Homo sapiens: one gene and its partners. The protein of the gene in region 2 interacts with the protein of the main gene of each other region in a biochemical or structural test. Each region holds a gene or a part of one and is shown on either strand. Other genes may lie near its edges. The genes, in order: TOR1AIP1, TOR1A and LMNA.

Region 1 (3,822 bases), on a different chromosome or scaffold from region 2:
CAGACTGACAAGGAAGAGTATCCTTTTCATTTTTCCTTAAAAGACAAGAAGAAAGAAGAAAGAGAGACAGAAAAGAAAGAAAGAAGTCTCTCTTTTGTTACTGCAGTTTTTAAAAGCTATATTGTACATAAAGCTACAGTAAACTAAGCTCCTAACAGGCCAAACCTTATCTCACTCTAAAACTGTAATTCCTCCTGCCTGTGGCCAAATTTATGGACAATATTAGTAAAAACATAGTACACAGTCGGGCAGGGTGGCTCACGCCTGTAATCCCAGCACTTTGGGAGGCCGAGAGGCGGATCACGAGGTCAGGAGATCGAGACCATCCTGGCTAACACGGTGAAACCCTGTCTCTACTAAAAATACAAAAAAATTAGCCGGGCGTGGCGGCATGCGCCTGTAGTCCCAGCTGCTGGGGAGGCTGAAGCAGGAGAATGGCGTGAATCCGGGAGGCAGAGGTTGCAGTGAGCCGAGATCGCGCCACTGGACTCCAGCCTGGGTGACAGAGCAAGACTCCGTCTCAAAAAAAATAAAATAAAAATAAAAATAAAATAAAAACATAGTACACATTACGACTTAAGTAGTTGAAATTTGTGCCAAGTTTGAGCAACAAATGAGTTGCTCAAAAACATTTTAAGGTGATTACTTGGAAGAATAAACAAACACCTTCAAACTTTTCAGAATCGCTCATTGTAACTGGTATCCAAATTACAATTTTTTAAATCTATTCACTCCAATCATACAAAGCCCTACAAGCAGTTGTATATTTGAAGGCAATTTAAGCTTTCTTTCAATAATTATTCAGACTTTACACGAACTTAATCGACCTTCTCTGAATGTGTCTAAATTTGGTTAGGTATTTGCAGATTAGCCACATCTGTAAACATTTGTATAAGGAGGTGAAACAAATAGATTTTACCATGCTTTCTTATTCCATAAAGTCCATAAAGCATTCTAAATCAAATGTAGAGTATCACGTCACATCCAGAATAAAAGTAAAAATAATGGATCACAACTTAAAATTACAGTGCTGTCTTTAATTAAAAAACTTGTTCATTTCTCACTGTGCACAATGTAGCACTAACATGGTCTTCCGAACACTGCTGCTTGGTATAAAACCGAGAAATATTAAAGACCAGGAATAAGGTTATGTGTCCTATGGGTACATTTCGGAAAAGAAAATACATCCAACGAGTATGACTCTAGATAGGATTTTGTACACCCTCAACAAGTGACAAAATTCAAAACTAGGTAACCGCCCTCATAAGGTACTTGAAACTAAAATTTTTGCCACGAAAACATGGCATGTGCAAAAGTTCTCTCTCTGGCCATCACTCCTGCTAAGGACACTGGGAAGGACATGGTCAACGTAGCAGTCGATCAAAAAGATTCCAGGGAAACTGCGCAACAGCCTGGGGCCGAGAAGCGAAACTTGGGTCTTCTCCACCCTCGTCGCACTCCTTTTCCCCGAGACTTGGTACTGGGAGATAGGACGGGAGTCTCCTACACGCAGTCAACACTTGCCACGAGCGGCTAGACTTAGGACAGGCAAGTTGCCCTGCCATCCTTCTATCGCCCCCACCCCTCCTTTACTTAAGGGCGATGGCAGAGACGTCCTCCTCCCCCTTCTCCTCCTCTTTGGTGCCTCCAGCCAGGAGGCGGGAGCGATCCACAGCAGCTGACCCAGCTCAGGCACTGCCTCTCTCACAGCCCTCAAGACACACCATGGGCCCAGAGGCAGGTTTGCTACACAGCAGCGACGACGCAGGCGGCGGCCCCAGCGACTCGCAACTGCCTCCCTGACCACAGCGGCCACCGCCCAACACCCCCGAGAAGCCATCGCCACCACCGGCAGGAGAACCTAGGGTCCATAAAGCCATCTTCGCGATCGACTAAAGCTACGTCAACAACTATGGCGGGCGACGGGCGGCGGGCAGAGGCGGTGCGGGAAGGATGGGGTGTGTACGTCACCCCCAGGGCCCCCATCCGAGAGGGAAGGGGCCGGCTCGCCCCTCAAAATGGCGGCAGCAGCGATGCGCCTGCGTACAGAACTCCTCCGTCGCGCCAGGGCCGGCGGGAAGTGAGGTTCTCGGACGAGCCGCCAGAAGTGTACGGCGACTTCGAGCCCCTGGTGGCCAAAGAAAGGTCCCCGGTGGGAAAACGAACCCGGCTAGAAGAGTTCCGGTCCGATTCTGCGAAAGAGGAAGTGAGAGAAAGCGCGTACTACCTTCGGTCTAGGCAGCGGAGGCAGCCGCGACCCCAGGAAACCGAGGAAATGAAGACGCGAAGGACTACCCGCCTTCAGCAGCAGCACTCAGAGCAGCCTCCGCTACAGCCGTCTCCTGTTATGACCAGGAGAGGGCTGCGGGACTCTCATTCCTCTGAAGGTGAGGACCGCGGAGGTAACAGTCCCAGCCGCGAGCCAGGGAACGCGCGGGGGCGGGCGCGCGCCTCGGTGGAGCTCATGCCCGCCTGGGTACTAAGTACTGGGATTGGCTAAAGGGTATTCCTCAGCCCCCTCTGGACTTGTGCCGCCGTGCAAGGGCCACCCTGACCCGCAGCGGGGAAGGAAGCGCCGACCGGAGGAGTGGAAAGATGGTCGTGTGGAGCGACCCGGGCAGGGCTGGGGCGCTCTGCCCAACATCGGGCATCAATTTAGGGGAGTCAGAGCTGCCTTTTTCTGCAGGCCTTCACGAGGGGACAGCGAATTACTGCAGGGTCGGTTTCATTTCGGTTCCCTCTACCCTGCGGATGTTTCTACAGAAACCACTTCCATTTCCTTCTTTAACGCTCGCGGGCCAGAGTCCCCAGCTGAGGATCTAACCTTTCAGTCTTTTTCCCTCCTCACCCAGGTGGGCAGAGAGGAAGGAGAAATTTTGTGAGTGGGCATTTCGAGGGATTGCTGAGTTTAGTGAATTGATTTGAGACCTCACCCAATACTTTCACCGAAATGGGGTAACTCATTTTTCCTGAACTGATGTTCCCCAGTGTTTGATAACTTGAGCTGATTGCTGTTTCTCCAGTGTGGTGGTCCCTGCCAAAAATCTGCCACTTTGGTGGCCGTCACTGTAACCTCAAGTAGTCTGGCAAATCAGACTGACAAAGTAACCTGAAAAACAAGACTATTAATTAGAGTTTTCGTCTAAATGGACAAAAGGGATGCTGACAAAGTGAGTGTATAGTGTTAGGTAAGTCATAGGTGAATCAGTTTCCTTAATCTATCCTCTCCCACCCTGCCCCCCCCATTTTAGGACCTAACACTGAGTCACAGATGAAGTTTCATGTTAATCCCATGTAAGGCACCTGTGAGGTAAAAATCAGCGGACCTGAGTCACAATGGGATGACATAGTTTGTGGTAGACTATTGATAGGCGGAGGAGTGGGTTTTCAGCTTAGAGCACGGTGATAGGCTGCAAGTTTACCTGCTGACTCGTGAAGGTACTGACAGATTTGAAGACTTGATTTTGGAAACTTTATGTTAAAGTTATGTCAGTTATTTTTGGGTGTAGCAACTGAAGACAGTTTAGCCCATATATGTGTTAGTTTTATCTCTTTTAAGATTACAAAGTTTTTGCAGACAAGGAGCCTATAATATATTTGATAGTAATTTAAGTACTTGGTTTAATTCAGTATTTTTCAGTACCTGGAAGAATGCTTTGTACATGGTAGGCAAAAAATATGTTACATTGTATTGAGTTCCACAGAGCCTAGTGCAGTTATACAGGCTAACTTTTTTTTAACAAGTAAAGAATTTACCCCTATTTTATTAAATCTTTAAGGATCTAAACATTTTTCACTCTTCTGCTTTCTTCCACATCATTT
Region 2 (3,822 bases):
TCTCGGCTCACCGCAAACTCTGCCTCCCGGATTCAAGTGATTCTGCTGCCTCAGCCTCCCAAGTAGCTGGTATTACAGGCACCTGCCACCACACCCAGCTAATTTTTGTATTTTTAATAGAGACAGGGTTTCACCTTGTTGGCCAGGCTGGTCTCAAACTCCTGACCTCAAGGTCATCCAGCTGTCTCTACTTCCCAAAGTGCTGAAATTACAGGTATGAGCCACCATGCCTGGCCTCAATCAGTTATTTATCCCTGACTGTATCTATGGAAAAATGTGAACACATTTTTCCCTTCTGTCTGGGTGAGCGTGTGGGTCACCCACTGTCCAGCGGTTCTGTACTAAAATGCGAATGTTCCACGGGTGTGGTGGCTCATGCCTATAATTCTAGCACTACGGGAAGCCAAAACCGGCTGATCCCTTGAGCTCAAGAGTTCCAGACCAGCCTGGGGAACATGGTGAAACCCCATCTCTACTAAAAAAATACAAAAAAATTAGTCAGGCATGGTGGCATGCACCTGTAGTCCCAGCTACTTAGGGGGCTGAGGCAGAAGGATGGCTTGAACCTGGGAGGTCGAGGCTGCAGTGAGCAGACAGCCACTGCAGTCCAGCCTGGGTGACGGAGTGAGACCCTGTCCCAAACAAACAAGAACCATTCTAGACGAATCAGGATAAGTTGATCATCTTAGAATTGAGGCTTCACTAACAATAACTGTGACTTTGGGCAAAGTTACTTCACTTGTCTGTGCCTCAGTTTTCTCATTTGTAAAAGAAGGAGCACAATGGTAACTACCGTGATGGGTTTTGGGAGGTCACAGTAAAATGTTCTATGAACAGACCAGGTGTGGTGGCTCGCGCCTGTAATCCCAGCACTTTGGGAGGCCGAAGCGGGTGGATCACAAGGTCAAGAGTTCAAGACCAGCCTGGCCAAGATGGTGAAACCCCATCTCTACTAAAAATACAAAAATTAGCTGGGCGTGGTGGCAGGTGCCTGTAGTCTCAGCTACTCAGGGGGCTGAGGCAAGGGAATCGCTTGAATCTGGGAGGCAGAGGTTGCAGTGAGCTGAGATCATGTCATTGCACTCCAGTCTGGGTAACAGAGCGAGACTGTCAAAAAAAAAAAGTTATATGAACAGTGCTTAGAATATTGTTGTTCCCATAGTGAACACTCAGTGCATGTTCCCTGTTATTGCATATAAGTTTGGTCACCAGAGTGAGAAACCTTGGCTGCTGGAGCCTAACAGGTCTGAGTGAATCCTTGTTTATTTTATTTATTTATTTTATTTTATTTTATTTATTTATTATTATTATTATTTTTTTTTTTTGAGACGGAGTCTTGCTCTGTCTCCCAGGCTGGAGTGCTGGAGTGCAGTGGGGTGATCTTAGCTCACTGCAACCTCCACCTCCCAGGTTCCAGCGATTCTCAAGCCTCAGCCTCCCAAGTACCTGGGATTACAGGCGCCTGCCACTATGCCTGGCTAATTTTTGTATTTTTTTTTTTAATGGAGTCTTGCTCTGTCGCCACGCTGGAGTGCAATGGCTTGATCTTGGCTCACCGCAACCTCCGCCTCCCAGGTTCATGCAATTCTACCTCAGCCTCCTGAGTAGCTGGGACTATAAGCACCTGCCACCATACCCAGCTAATTTTTTTGTATTTTTTTTAGTAGAGACCAGGTTTCACCATGTTGGCCAGGCTGGTCTTGAACTCCTGACCTCAGGTGATCCACCCACTTTGGCCTCCCAAAGTGCTGGGATTACAGGCATGAACCACCATGCCTGGCCCTAATTTTTGTATTTTAATAGAGATGGGGTTTCACCATGTTGGCCAGGCTGGTCTCAAACCCCTGACCTCAACTTATCCGTCTGCCTCAGCCTCCCAAAGTGCTGGGATTACAGGTGTGAGCCACCATGCCCGACCCCACCCCCTTTTTAAATAAAAATCAGTATCCTCATGACATCCCACATTGCCCCTTTGATGACAAAAGAGCAGCATCTCTGACAGCATCCGTGTGGCATCTCGCAGTGCGGGAACCGTAACCAAAGTATCGGGCTTTGGAGTGAGACAGGACTGGGTTCAGGTCCCAGCTCTGCCACATATAGTCTTGGGCAAGTGGAGTAAGCGCTCTCTGTGCCTCAGTTCCCTCATCTGTAAAATGAGAACGATAGTGCCCACTCCATGGGGTTGGTAGGAACAAAGAAGATTTTGGGCATGTAAAGTTCTTAGTGCCGAGTGCACAGTGGTCTGTAAGTGAAGCTGCGGTTCTTAGTGGTAGAAGGAGCTGATTGATGGCCCTGGCTGAGAACTTTGTGTTCGCTTTTTCCCCTTTTAATTCAGGATCAGTTACAGTTGTGGATTCGAGGCAACGTGAGTGCCTGTGCGAGGTCCATCTTCATATTTGATGAAATGGATAAGATGCATGCAGGCCTCATAGATGCCATCAAGCCTTTCCTCGACTATTATGACCTGGTGGATGGGGTCTCCTACCAGAAAGCCATGTTCATATTTCTCAGGTAAGGTCAGGGCTAGGACATGATGGATGGGCCCCGAGCCCAAGCCTCTGAGCTCCAGGAGAAAACCCTGTCCTTACCCACTGGGATTGTTTTGCAGCAATGCTGGAGCAGAAAGGATCACAGATGTGGCTTTGGATTTCTGGAGGAGTGGAAAGCAGAGGGAAGACATCAAGCTCAAAGACATTGAACACGCGTTGTCTGTGTCGGTTTTCAATAACAAGAACAGTGAGTAGGGCCATCCACCGCCAGTCCCATCTGGTTCCTAATCCTGCACCCTAAGTGTTAAAAGCATCAGGGTCACTGTCAGCATCACCTGGGAGCTGGGTAGAAAGAAATGCAGATTCTCAGTCCCCTTCCGAGTCATGAGGGGAATCTTTGCTGATGAACTCCAGGTAACTTTTATGAACACTAATGTTTGACAAGTGCTGTTTTATTTTTATTTTTCAGATAGTTTTACTCTGTCACCTAGGCTGGAGTGCAGTGGCGTAACCTTGCCTCACTGCAACCTCTGCCTCCCGGGCTCAAGCGATTCTTGTGCCTCAGCCTCCTGAGTAGCTGGGATTACAGGTGCACACCATGCCCAGCTAATATTTGTATTTTTAGTAGAGATGGGGTTTTGTCATGTTGGCCAGGCTGGTCTTGAACTCTTACCTCAGGTGATCCGCCCACCTCGGCCTCCCAAAGTGCTGGGATTACAGGCGTGAGCCACTGTGCTCAGCTTATTTTTTGAGACAGAGTCTCACTCTGTCACCCAGGCTGGAGTCCAGTGGTGTGATCTCAGCTCACTGGAGTCTTGACTTCCTAGGCTCAAGTGATCCTCCAGCCTCAGCTTCCCATGTAGGTGGAACCACAGGCTTGCGCCACCATGCCTGGCTAATTTTTTTTTTTTTTTTTTTTTTTTTTTTTGGTAGAGACTGGGTCTTCCTATGTTTCCCAGGCTGGTCTTGACTTCCTGGACTTAAGTCATCCTCCCGCCTCAGCCTCCCAAAGTGCTGGAATTATAGGCATGAGCTACATACCTGGCCTGCTGTTTTTTTTTTTTTTTTGAGATGGAGTCTCGCTCTGTTGCCCAGGCTGGAGTGCAGTGGCGCGATCTCGGCTCACTGCAAGCTCTGCCTCCCAGGTTCACACCATTCTCCTGCCTCAGCCTGCCGAGTAGCTGGGACTACAGGCACCTGCCACCACACTCGGCAAATTTTTTGTATTTTTAGTAGAAACGGGGTTTCACCATGTTAGCCAGGATGGTCTTATCTCCTGACCTCGTGATCCGCCTGCCTCGGCCTCCCAAAGTGCTGGGATTACAGGCGTGAG
Region 3 (3,600 bases), on a different chromosome or scaffold from region 2:
AGGCCCTTGTGATTTCTCTGGGGAAAAGGAGGACTGGAGTTGATCATTTATTGAGGCCATCAGAAGCGGATGGCTAATTACATATGGGACATGTGTTAATAATGCTTTGTGTATATAGAGTGGCCTTTACTTTCAAAACACTCTTCTCCAATTTATCATGTTAAAAGCTAGGAATTGGGCTGGGTGCAGTGGCTCACGCCTATAATCCCAGCACTTTGGGAGGCCAAGGCGGGTGGATCATTTGAGGTCAGGAGTTTGAGACCAGTCTGACCAACATGGTTAAACTCCGTCTCTACTAAAAATACAAAATTAGCCAGGCGTGGTGGCACACACCTGTAGTCCCAACAACTACTTGTGAGGCTGAGGCAGGAAAATCATTTGAACCCAGGATCAGAGGTTGTGGTGAACTGAGATTGCACCATTGCACTCCAGCCTGGGCAACAAGAGCAAAACTCTATCTCAAAAAAAATAAAAAATAGCCAGGCACGGTGGCTCATGCCTGTAATCCTAGCACTTTGGGAGGCAGAGGTGGGCAGATCACCTGAGGTTAGGAGTTCGAGACTAGCCTGGCCAACATGGTGAAACCCCATCTCTACTACAAATACAAAAATTAGCTAGGCATGGTGGCAGCCACCTGTAATCCCAGCTACTTGGGAGGCTGAGGCAGGAGAATCGCTTGAACCCGGGAGGTGGAGGTTGCAGTGAGCCAAGATCGGGTCACAGCACTCCAGCCTAGGCAACAGAGCGAGACTCCATCTCAAAAAAACATAAATAAATAAAAATAAAAATAAATAATAAATAAAAGCTAAGAATCAAAGAAGCAGTTTATTCCTAATTTCACAGTCTCATCTGTTCATAGTGGGGCCAGGATTAGAGTCAGTGGCCAAGCTTCCATCCTGGGTTCTTTCCCTTCCCAGGCCCTACCATCATAGTATACCAGGGAAAGACCTGGAGAAGCCAGCAGGTTGACCACCGAACCAAGGCTGGGCCACCTTCCTCCTGGGTCTGGTCTCCAGCCTCCCAGTTGTACCCTTCCCCCAGCCCTTCCTGGATGCACTGATCAGCCTGTGCTTCCTTGCCCTGTTTTTCTTTATAAATAGAGCCATGTTCTCCTCTCTCTCTCTCTCTTTTTTTTTTTTTTTTTTTTGAGATGGAGTCTTACTCTGTCACCCAGGCTGGAGTGCAATGGCACGATCTCAGCTCACTGCAACCTCTGTCTCCCAGGTTCAAGCAATTCTCCTGCCTCAGCCTCCCGAGTAGCTGGGATTACAGGTGCCCACCACCATGCCCAGCTACTTTTTGGATTTTTAGTAGAGACAGGGTTTCACCATGTTGGTCAGGCTGGTCTTGAACTCCTGACCTTAGGTGTTCTGCCCGCCTCAGCCTCCCAAAGTGCTGGGATTACAGGCGTGAGCCACCACGCCTGGCAAGACGTGTTCTCTCTATGTTGTTGAGGCTGGTCTTGAACTCCTGGCTGCAAGAGATCTTCCTGCCTCAGCCTCCCAATGTGCTGGGATTATAGGCATGAGCCACCACACTTAGCCCAGCCTGTGCTTTCTTAAATGAAAATCTAAGCATACGGCTGGGTGTGGTGGCTCACGCCTGTAATCCCAGCATTTTGGGAGGCCAAGGTGGGCAGATCACGAGGTCAGGAGATCGAGACTATCCTGGCCAACATGGTGAAACCCTGTCTCTACTAAAGATACAAAAATTAGCTGGGTGTGGTGGCCCATGTCTGTAGTCCCAGCTACTCGGGAGACTGAGGCAGGAGAATGGCATGAACCTGGGAGGCAGAGCTTGCAGTGAGCTGAGATCGCGCCACTGCTCTCCAGCCTAGGTGACAGAGCGAGACTCCATCTCAAAAAAAAAATAAAAATAAAAAAAAGAAAATCTAAGCGTGGTGCTCCCCTGCTCAAACATCCTCAGGTTCTTTTCATGGCAGATAAGGGCATCTCTTCATGAGCCAGCCCCTGCCTACTGACCCAGCCACCTCTCCCATCCCTTCCCACCCCGTACTTCAGGCTTCAGCAGTACTGATCTTTCCAAAGACCCCAGAACACACATGCCTTCATACCTCTGTGCCTGTACATGCTTGTTTCTGCCCTTGAAATCATGACAGTAGCTCTCTGTAGGCCCCGCTAGCCTGTCCCTTGGGTCTTAGCCTCTTGGAGGCCTTCCCAGAGCCCCCCAAAAGTACCCCAGGCATACTTTGGTTCCTTCTCTCATGTCCCCTCAGTACTTTGCACATACCTCCTTTATAGCAGTTGCTATGTTGTGCCAGAGAAGGGAGTCCTGTGGCTGGGGGGCATATATCTTTTCTTTTTGAGACAGAGTCTAGCTGTGTCACCCAGGCTGGAGTGCAGTAGTGCGATCTCGGCTCACTGCAACCTCCACCTCCTGGATTCAAGCGATTCTTGTGCCTCAGCCTCCTGAGTAGCTGGGACTACAGGCGTGTGCCACCATCATGCCTGGCTACTTTTTTGTATTAGATATATATTTTCTCTCTTAGCACAGTACCTACCAAGAGTGAGTGAGTAGATGTCCTGACCCCTGCAGGCATCCAAGGCCCTCCTTCCCTGGACCTGTTTCCACATGTGTGAAGGGGTGCACAGGCAGCAGCCCACCTCTCAGCTTCCTTCCAGTTCTTGTGTTCTGTGACCCCTTTTCCTCATCTCTGCCTGCTTCCTCACAGCTTGAGGCAGCCCTAGGTGAGGCCAAGAAGCAACTTCAGGATGAGATGCTGCGGCGGGTGGATGCTGAGAACAGGCTGCAGACCATGAAGGAGGAACTGGACTTCCAGAAGAACATCTACAGTGAGGTGGGGACTGTGCTTTGCAAGCCAGAGGGCTGGGGCTGGGTGATGACAGACTTGGGCTGGGCTAGGGGGGACCAGCTGTGTGCAGAGCTCGCCTTCCTGAGTCCCTTGCCCTAGTGGACAGGGAGTTGGGGGTGGCCAGCACTCAGCTCCCAGGTTAAAGTGGGGCTGGTAGTGGCTCATGGAGTAGGGCTGGGCAGGGAGCCCCGCCCCTGGGTCTTGGCCTCCCAGGAACTAATTCTGATTTTGGTTTCTGTGTCCTTCCTCCAACCCTTCCAGGAGCTGCGTGAGACCAAGCGCCGTCATGAGACCCGACTGGTGGAGATTGACAATGGGAAGCAGCGTGAGTTTGAGAGCCGGCTGGCGGATGCGCTGCAGGAACTGCGGGCCCAGCATGAGGACCAGGTGGAGCAGTATAAGAAGGAGCTGGAGAAGACTTATTCTGCCAAGGTGCTTGCTCTCGATTGGTTCCCTCACTGCCTCTGCCCTTGGCAGCCCTACCCTTACCCACGCTGGGCTATGCCTTCTGGGGATCAGGCAGATGGTGGCAGGGAGCTCAGGGTGGCCCAGGACCTGGGGCTGTAGCAGTGATGCCCAACTCAGGCCTGTGCCTCCACCCCTCCCAGTCACCACAGTCCTAACCCTTTGTCCTCCCCTCCAGCTGGACAATGCCAGGCAGTCTGCTGAGAGGAACAGCAACCTGGTGGGGGCTGCCCACGAGGAGCTGCAGCAGTCGCGCATCCGCATCGACAGCCTCTCTGCCCAGCTCAGCCAGCTCCAGAAGC

The links.
Region 1: the proteins of TOR1A (region 2) and TOR1AIP1 form a complex in vitro, tested with the Homo sapiens proteins (2 studies listed by BioGRID and IntAct).
Region 3: the proteins of TOR1A (region 2) and LMNA form a complex in vitro, tested with the Homo sapiens proteins (one study listed by BioGRID).

The regions. Positions count from the first base shown.
Region 1 is NC_000001.11:179,880,591-179,884,412, forward strand, and holds the start of TOR1AIP1 (torsin-1A-interacting protein 1), read left to right. Parts: upstream 1-1,694; 5' UTR 1,695-1,725; coding exon of another isoform or gene 1,726-1,803; 5' UTR 1,804-1,912; coding exon 1,913-2,387; intron 2,388-3,822. Other genes in the region: uncharacterized LOC139427322, read left to right, coding at 1,726-1,803. UniProt on the Homo sapiens protein: Required for nuclear membrane integrity. Induces TOR1A and TOR1B ATPase activity and is required for their location on the nuclear membrane. Binds to A- and B-type lamins. Possible role in membrane attachment and assembly of the nuclear lamina.
Region 2 is NC_000009.12:129,817,434-129,821,255, reverse strand, and holds part of TOR1A (torsin-1A precursor), read left to right. Parts: intron 1-2,335; coding exon 2,336-2,511; intron 2,512-2,608; coding exon 2,609-2,736; intron 2,737-3,822. UniProt on the Homo sapiens protein: Protein with chaperone functions important for the control of protein folding, processing, stability and localization as well as for the reduction of misfolded protein aggregates.
Region 3 is NC_000001.11:156,131,711-156,135,310, forward strand, and holds part of LMNA (lamin), read left to right. Parts: intron 1-2,692; coding exon 2,693-2,818; intron 2,819-3,094; coding exon 3,095-3,265; intron 3,266-3,476; coding exon 3,477-3,600.